2 separate regions of the Homo sapiens genome follow, and region 2 is linked to region 1. The links come from fine-mapping of genetic effects on gene expression. A gene starts in region 1. The other region holds a variant in brackets. All regions are shown on one strand. Distances are from middle to middle.

The links.
Region 2: its variant is fine-mapped to the expression of TMEM18 in sigmoid colon (GTEx, PIP above 0.99).

What each region holds. Positions count from the first base shown.
Region 1 is chr2:675,385-679,774 of GRCh38, reverse strand. It overlaps TMEM18 (transmembrane protein 18), which reads left to right and starts at 2,369. Exons shown (of 5, transcript NM_152834.4): 1 at 2,369-2,486; 2 at 4,145-4,265. The coding sequence starts at 2,430. TMEM18-DT (TMEM18 divergent transcript) reads right to left here and starts at 2,403. Exons shown (of 3, transcript NR_183417.1): 1 at 2,302-2,403. RefSeq lists enhancers at 2,227-2,296, 2,327-2,426, 2,329-3,094 and a silencer at 2,587-2,836.
Region 2 is chr2:653,426-657,815 of GRCh38, reverse strand. No RefSeq gene overlaps it. Among named protein-coding and RNA genes, the nearest start is that of TMEM18-DT, 22 kb to the left of the region's middle. The variant G/A (reference allele first, on the strand shown) is at 2,228.

The DNA.
Region 1 (4,390 bases):
CTAAAAATACAAAATTAGCCTGGCATGGTGGCACACGCCGGTGATCCCAGCTACTCGGAAGGCTGAGGCAGGGAGAATCGCTTGAACCCAGGAGGCAGAGGTTGCAGTGAGCCGAGACCCTGCCACTGCACTCCAGCCTAGGCAACAAGAGCAAAACGCAAAAAAAAAAAAAAAAAAAAAAAAAAAAGGAAAGGGAAGAGAAGAGAAGGGTGGCGAGGGAAGGGGAAGGGAGGGGAGGGGCTTCATCCAGTCTTTTCTGGAAGCACAAAATTCCAGGTAAATGGAATAGAGTCCATGTCAGCATTCACATACCAACAGAGAGAGCAGGCCATGTTCTACTGGCCACATTAAAATAGCAAAGAGAAAGAGATTAATTTTATTGATATATTTTATTTGGTCCAGTATGTCCAAAATATAATTTCAACATGTAAGCAAAATAATACAATTGTTGATAATGTATTTTACATTTTGGTACAAAGTCTTTGAAAGATGGTGTATGTTTGAAATTAAAGCACATCTCAGACTGGCGACATTGCACAAGCTTCACGTCTAAATGTCCGGCAGCCTAGCGTTGTTCAGAACGGCAGGGCGGGAGGAATGTGGAAGATGAATGTCCTGGGACTGAAAGTGAAGCTGCTGAGGGCCAGAGTTTTAACAATTTTGGAAACTTGGGTGCCAGGGCGCACAATATATGAAAGATCTGGGAGGGCGGCTGAGGGGAAGATGAAGAGAAAAAATCCCAGTGACCGTAGATAGGCTGTGGTTAATATTAATAGCAAAAAGAGTTTGACCCCAAATTACAGAAGTTACAAGAAAACAGACACCACAAAAGAAAGGCAGGCACCAGACAGGACTGACGATGAAACTAACCCATGGAAATTAATAAGAGTGATGTTTCACATAGTAACGAAATATCATCAGGGAGATACACAGTAACAGGCTGAACTGAAGAGGACAGATCTATTCCCTGTAACTGAAAGGTCCTGTTGAAAATAGCTGAACAAACACAGGGGAGTGAGAATGGACACAGATGAAAACCATCACACCAGCTGGGTGCGGTGGCTCATGCCTGTAATCCCAGCACTTTGGGAGGCCCAGGCGGGTAAATCACTTGAGGTCAGGAGTTCAAAACTAGCCTGGCCAACATGGTGAAACCCCGTCTCTACTAAAAATACAAAAAAAATTAGCCAGGTGAGGTGGCGAACACCTGTAATCCCAGCTACTCGGGAGGCTGAGGCAGGAGAATAGCTTGAACCCAGGAGGCGGAGGTTGCAGTGAGCCGAGGTCCCACCATTGTGCTCCAGCCTGGGCGACAGAGCGAGACATCGTCTTAAAAAAAAAAAAAAAAAACCAGGAAAGCCAAGCCCGAGATTTCCCAAACTCAGCAACAACAGTCGTGATGTTTTGAGAGGAAGGTTGAGAAACACAAAAGAGAGGAAGATGCACTATCTACCTAACGGGATGTTCCTGGAGTTGAATACAGGAAGAATAGAGAAAAATATCAATGAAAGAAATGTTTTCCCATAAGAAGAAACCATGACCTTCTACACTGAAATGAGAGAATGCATGTTAAGTAGCATAAGCAGAAATGACCACACTGTGGAAAGATTTTAAGAAAGATCTGGGAGGGGTTAAAGCTATTAAAAAAAAAAAAAAGTCCACCACTAGAACTATTTTTAGAAACATTAAACTAGTTCAAGAGCTAACATATGCAATTAAAGTATATACACTTAATAATTCATGATGTTAAAATAACAGAATGTTTAATTTGAAAATGTCAAAGTTGGGGTATAGATGTTAAAATAAAGGGAAAAAATTCGCTGGAAGAAAATTAACTTTATATTTTTGTATCTGTCGTTGAACAACGAAGTGAAGCGTAAGAACATCTGGTAAATCTCCAAAGTGAAGACAGATAACCCTAAGCTGACCCAGACTAAGAGTGCACTGCCCTTAGGGTCGCGAGAGCAGACACCTTCCCAAGTCCTGCAGGGTCCGAGGAGTGGGCAATGTCCCCGGCTCCTGCAGGGTCTCGGGGCGGACACCGTCCTCATTGATGCTCTGACCCTTCTAGGGAGTCCCAGGTGGGACAGGGCTGGCGTGGCGGTACAGCGCCCTGAGCCTTTGAAACAAACCTCCTAAATTCCACCCGCCTCCGCCTGCTCCTCTGTTAACGAACTAAAGACGCCCTCGGCCTCCTGGCGGAGCGAGCACAAGTCCCACAGCAGCGTAGTAAGTTTTCCGTATTACAGCGACCACCAGGAAATATCGCGATATCTGGACCTAGCAATGCCATGAAATTACCGCGAGAGGAAGCAAGCGCAAGTTTCGTGAGAAGGGCAGATCTCACGAGAGAGGATTTGGCGCCCTCCTCTGTGGATTCTGGCCAGGCCGGGTTCGGCGGTTGCTGTGAGAGCGGGCTTCCCAACACCATGCCGTCCGCCTTCTCTGTCAGCTCTTTCCCCGTCAGCATCCCAGCCGTGCTCACGGTAACTCGCGGCCCGCGTAACCACCAGTTCGGGGGAGGACGGCGGAGAGGCGTAGGGTAGGCCCCACAGAGCACCCGGCCTGTGGCCAAGAAGGCCCCGGCCGTGGGCGGGGCCTTGTGGCGGAGCGCGCGCGCTGGGCAGGGTCCTGAGACCTGTGGGAGTGGCTCGGGGCCGGCGTCGGGGGCGCGCGCTGTGGGCGGGGTCCTGGGCCCTGTGGGAGGGGGCCGGGGCCGGGCGTCGGGGCGCGAGCGCTAGGCGGGGTCCTGGGCCGTTGGGCGGGGAGGGGCGGGGCCGGGCGGGGCCTTGTGGAGGAGCGTGCGCAGTGAGCTGGCTCCGGCGCTCTGTGGCCCGGGCTTGGGCTGGGCTGGCGTCCTGCACCGTGCGGGCGTGGCTGAGTTGTGTGGGCGGAGCGCGAGGGGTAGGGCTTTGTTCGTGTGGGAGGTGCACGCCGGCCAGTCCAGCGTCTTGCGGGCGGGGCTTGGGCCATGTGGGCGGATTCTGGCAGTGCGGCGGGGCGTGCGTGGTGGAGCCTGATCGTGTGGGGTGGCACGGAGGAACGCTGCCCAGTGTGGGCGGGGCGTGCGCCGTGCCGGGTTCGTCTGACAGATCCCAGGGGAGCCCACGCCCCACGTGGCCGCCAAGGGGTGACATGGGCACTCGATGGGGTCTGGGCAGAAAGCCGTGCTCCCCTCACCTCCGTGCCTCTGGTCTTCTGGTGGGTGCATTGATGGGAGTAGATGCGCTTGTGTCCTTATGTCATGGCGCGGCTCTGGAGAAGCCGCTGCGGTCCCCAGCAGAGAGTAGTGACACAGGAGTTCTGGAGGGCTGTGCCGGGCTGCAGCTTGGAGGGCAGGGCGGGGCTGCAGCTTGGAGGGCAGGGCGGGGCTGCAGCTTGGAGGGCAGGGCTTGTCTTCTGCAGGAGGGCGCTCAAGGAGGGGATGGGGAGGGTTGAGGACTGCTGGGATTGGCATCTGAGCATCAGGTGGGGACTGAGCAGCAGTGGATCTGAGCCTGGCTACTTCAGGTCCCTGAGCCAGACACTGTCCCCAGGTACAGCAGGGTCCCGGGGAGTCCAGGAGGCGGCGGAGTGCGGCACTGTCTGGAGAGTTCAGTGTATTGCAGAGAGGTTGGAGAAAATCAAGTCTTGCACGTGGCGATGGCTCAAGATTCCCTGAGGTCTTCAGTGCTGACTAAGGAGTCTGAAATGATGATTCATGTTTTACCTTTGGGGCTGAGCCAAGTGCATCTCTTTGAGCAATCGTCTTAATTTCCTTGTCGTCACCAATTATCATAACCAATTATCATCGTAAAGGATGGTAATTCCTTTAATTATACCCACCTTAAAAACATGATTCTGTTCCACAAACGAAAGGAGCACATCAGAGATGCCTTCAGTTCTGTGTGCTTGAACTTTGAATTCCATGAATTATAGTTGCACTGAGGGGAGAATCCTGTTTCCATCCTCCTGGTTCCTTCTCCCTTTCCTGTCCCCATGTTTCTCTGAGGCCTGGCAATGCTCTCTGGATACTTGGTGAGTAGCCCAGGAGGACTCAGGAGTGAGAGGCCCCTGCCTCCTGCGCTGGGAGAAGGCTGTGGGTGGGCCGTGAACCCGGCCTTGAGTGGCAGGACAGTGAGTGTCTGCTGGTGTGTTCCTACAGCAGACGGACTGGACTGAGCCCTGGCTCATGGGGCTGGCCACCTTCCACGCGCTCTGCGTGCTCCTCACCTGCTTGTCCTCCCGAAGCTACAGACTACAGATCGGGCACTTTCTGTGTCTAGGTGAGTAAAACAACACAAACTCCACAACTCAGATCACTGTGTGAAATGAAACTGTGTATGTTCTGTCTGTGTCTTCGAAATATATACATATTTTTACAAGACCTCCCAACCCTCTGTCATGTGCC
Region 2 (4,390 bases), 22 kb after region 1:
AAATACAGAGAAAGGAAGATGAAAAATGTGGGTTTATTAAAATTCTGTTGATAAAGTGAGAAGATTCAGTACATATTGAATGTAATTACAATAGGATAGAACAAGAAGAATTAGAGAGAGACTATATTTGCAAAAAAATGAGTAAACAATTTGATTACAAAAGCATGCTGTCTATCAAGCAGAATAAATACAAAACAAAGATACATCTGGACATACTGGAGTAAAATTGAGAATAACCAGTCTAAACGTAAAATATGTAAGACAGAGAGAAAACTTTGGCACTGTCTAATAAGAATGACAATTCGGTAGACTGCAGACCTCCAAAAGCAATACTAAAAGTTAAGAGAAGTTTGGAATAATCCCTTAAAATGCTGATAGAAAATAATTGTCAACCTGGATGTGTGTGCCCTGTAAAATTATATTTCATGAATAAGAACAAATTTAAAACATTTCAGCTGAAGAAAATTGGGAGGGTTTACTACACACAGACTCCCTGAAGAAACTACTAAGAGATGTCCTCCTTTTACCAGGTGATAGTAAAAGAAGTAAGAAGTTATGGAAGAAAATGAATTGGTTATTTGTTTAAATCTAAAACACATTACAGAAAATTATGATGATTGTGACATTAATGATATTATAATAATAACATGCATTTGAGAGAGAGAGAGAAAGATAAAGTACTGGACAGCAGTAACCGATAATTCAGGAGAACACAATTGAACATAATCTAATTGTTCAAGCTCTTTATTCTTTACTTTTTAGGAGAAGACTACAGATATTGCTATGGGCTGGATCGTGTGCTCTCAGAATTTATACGTCCATTCCTAGCCACCAGTGGGACTGTATTTGGTGGTGGCTCCAATAAGGAGATCATCAGGGTAGAAGGAGGTCACCGGGCGGGGCATGGTCCCATCAGGCTGGTGTTCTGATAAGAGGAGACACCACTGAGCTCTCGACTTAGAAGAACACAAGGAGAAACCCTCACAGGAAACAAATTGGGTGCCTCCTTCCTGCCCTGATCTTCAGTGCCCAGCCTCCACAACTGTGAGAAAATAAATTTTTGGTGTTTAAGCCCCTCAGTTTGTGGTGTTTGTTAGAGCAGTCTGAGTTAAGACAGATACTAATTAACTTCAGGCCTTGTTAAGTAACTATTAAAGAAATATGAATGTAGTATATAACCATCAAATCTGTAGAGACAAGAAAACAGAAAAAGAAAACAATCCAAAATAAGATAAGAAAGAAAAAAACTTAAAAAATAAATACATATATATATAAAATAATGTTTTAAATAAAATTTAAAAATAAAAACATACACACAAAACCAAGTCCATTATTTAAGTTTATTGTGGCAAACTTGATTCTCAAACTAGACAAGAGAAGCACAAGAAAGAACACATAGAAACTTCTATAAATGCAGATGGAAAACTTGCCTATGTTAAGAAAATGAACCCAGCTGTGTATTGAAGAGAAAACACAACATAACTCAGTTTACAATTGTGAAGAGTTCAATGGCTTCAGAAAAAAACATTTGATAAAATTCAAAACTCATGAACTGAAAAACAAAATGAACTAATCGAGCAAAAACTATTGACAAAGTAGGAAAAAAGGAAAACTTTTGTAACTTAATAAAGACTATCTAAACAGTTAAGTAATCGCAGCACTTCATCCCTAATGTGGAAAATCTAGAACATCTCCTGTTACAGACACTTAAGGCCCTCAGGTGCCTCTCACTTCCCAGCACTAAGGACACATGCATTGGGTTTTCTTATGGCTGCACCCCAGTCTTGGTACAAAATCTCTTTTACTTACTAGTACCTTGTGATGAACAACCTCAAGCCTCAGCTAATGAAAACAGCAGCAGTCACAGTGTTGCTCACAGATCTGTAACTTGGGCAGAGATCCCAGGAGACAGCTTGCCTTTGCTTCATACACTTCAGCTTGGGGCAGCAGGAAGTTTCACTTTCCACATGGACTTGCCCTTGTGACTAGCTGGTTGGTGTTGATCAGCAGCAAGGGCTGTGGGTTGGGGCCATGGCAGGGCAGGCCATACAGGCCTCCTCATGGCCTCTTGGGCTGCCTCACAACAAGGTGGCTGGTTCCAAGAACAAAAGTCTCAAGACAACAAGGTGCATCACTTTTTCATCCCATGTCATCCCACTCACAGGGGAAGTCACAAAGACTGCCTGGGACCCAGGACAGGGACACGGCACCCCATATCCTGGTAGGT[G/A]TGTCAAAGTCAGAGTCCCACTGTGAAGGAGCAAGTGTGATGAGGGCTTGTCTTGTGCCGTCTTTGGAAAATGCAATCAGCCACTGCTGATTTTTTCTGTGTGATTAATTATGTGGTTTTCTCTTGGGGGAGGAGTGTCCAGGTATATTTTAATGGTTTGACAATGTTCTACTTGCCATAGACAACACAGTGTTCATTTTTTCTTAGGCTTTATAACTTTGATGTGTAATACATATGTTCCTCTGTGAGACTCAAATACTTCACTTAGAAAATCTCATCATCTGACAACCTCCTTTGCCTGTGCAGAGCTGTGGTGAATTTTCCATCGCTCTTAGGTCCTCAGAATAAAACCCAATGCCTGCACCACGTGTATGACAACCTTTGTGACGTGGCCTCCACGGAGAGCCTCATTTTTAGGATGGTAACTTACTCAGAGTGCTGCACCCGCACTGATCCTGTAGAACAAGTGTCTTTCCTCGTAGTGGCCCCAGCAGGCTTCCGCCTCTGCTCAGAGCGTGCCTCTGGCTGAGGCTTATGTTGATCTGCTTCTGCACGGCCATCACCTCCTCAGAGGGGACTTCCTGGGCCCCCATCTAAAGTGTCACCCACTCATCTCCACCCAGAAGCCCCACTTTATATTATATTACAGAAGTTTTATCTAAACTCATTCTGCTCCCTGATGAACTCGCTTGCACTTCCTTAAATGCACACTGGAAGGTGTGCATCCCGAGGGCAGAGCCTGTCCTCCCTGTGCCCCAGTGCTGGGAGCCATGTTTACATCAGAAACCTCCTGGGAAGTGGTTTTGAGTGAACCATTTCATCACAACAACCCTGTAAGGTAAATGATATTATTTCCATATTTTAGATGAAAAAAGAGATTTCCAGAAAAATGAAAAATTCTGCAGTCCACAGTGATGTTGGTATGGGATCTGGAGCTGTCGTGGCCCAAAGCCAGAGTCCTTTTCTCCTTCCTGACTCAGTGCTGTCAATCTCTGATGTCAGAAGAGCGAGCACCGAAGACAGAAAACAGCGTCCTACACTCAGCGGCAAGGAGAGTTTGAGGAACACACAAGGAGATCTGGAAGCCCGTGGTGTTGCCTCCTCACCAGGAGGCCATGGTGGTCTTGGGAGGTGCCCATGCTCTACTCTGTGTGCCAGCTGAGCAGGAAGTGGACAGAGAAGCAAGGTTGGGTCACATTCTCTGTGTAGAGTGTTTCTCCTTCTCATCATATGTTTATATACTTGGAGGGGATGGGTGGAGATTTCTTGCACGCATGGATTGTGTGGTGGTGAAGGTGGGGCAGCTGTCACCCGAATAGTGAGCATCATATCCCACAGGCAATTCCCCAGCCCTCAGCTACTCCCCACCTCCCACCTTCTCCAGTGTCTGTGCATCCGCTCTGCACATCCACATGTGTTCCCACCTTCTCCGGTGTCTGTGTGTCCGCTCTGCACGTACACATGTGTAAAGAACTTGACACTGCGACCCGGTCAGGAGACAGCGGCAGGTGTGTGAGGCACGAAGCCAGGAGGAGCCGGGGCTGCAGCACAGCAGGGAAATAATAAATTTGTGCTGGAAAAGGGTGCTTGGGAGGAGAATCTAAGAACCTCATGGAGAAACATGGTTTGGGTACGAGAAGGAATTTGTCCCACATTAAGAAGTAGATAGAGGCATATGTTTTGCGAACCCTGGGAAATGGATGGGAACCCCCAGGCCCCAGGTGCCCCATGCTTCCCACAGTGGACGCCATGAGGACAGCCTCAGCTCACTGTCAGGACCTCCACCTCCAGTGGGTCAGCTCCCTGGCACCCAAATATGCGAGGCTACTACACGCCAGGCACTGTGGCTGGTGTTTCAAGAAGCTGTCAAGGTCATACAGATACAAAGTCCACAAGCTGGAAGCAGAGACTGGGGCCGGTGATAGAAGTTGACCACCCCTTCTGTGGCTCCCCACCCCTAGCTGAGAGTCCAGGTGGAAGTGAACCAAGCTCCTAGACAATGTGGAACGTACCGTTTAGGCGTTGAAGGAAAGCATGAACACTTGTATTATCTCAGCCACGGGGAAGACTTGACAGAGCCACTGATTTACAGCAATCTTACTGTGGCCTGTACCCAGTCTGTGAGAAAACTATGCAATCATACAAGATTGTATTTAAGGTTCA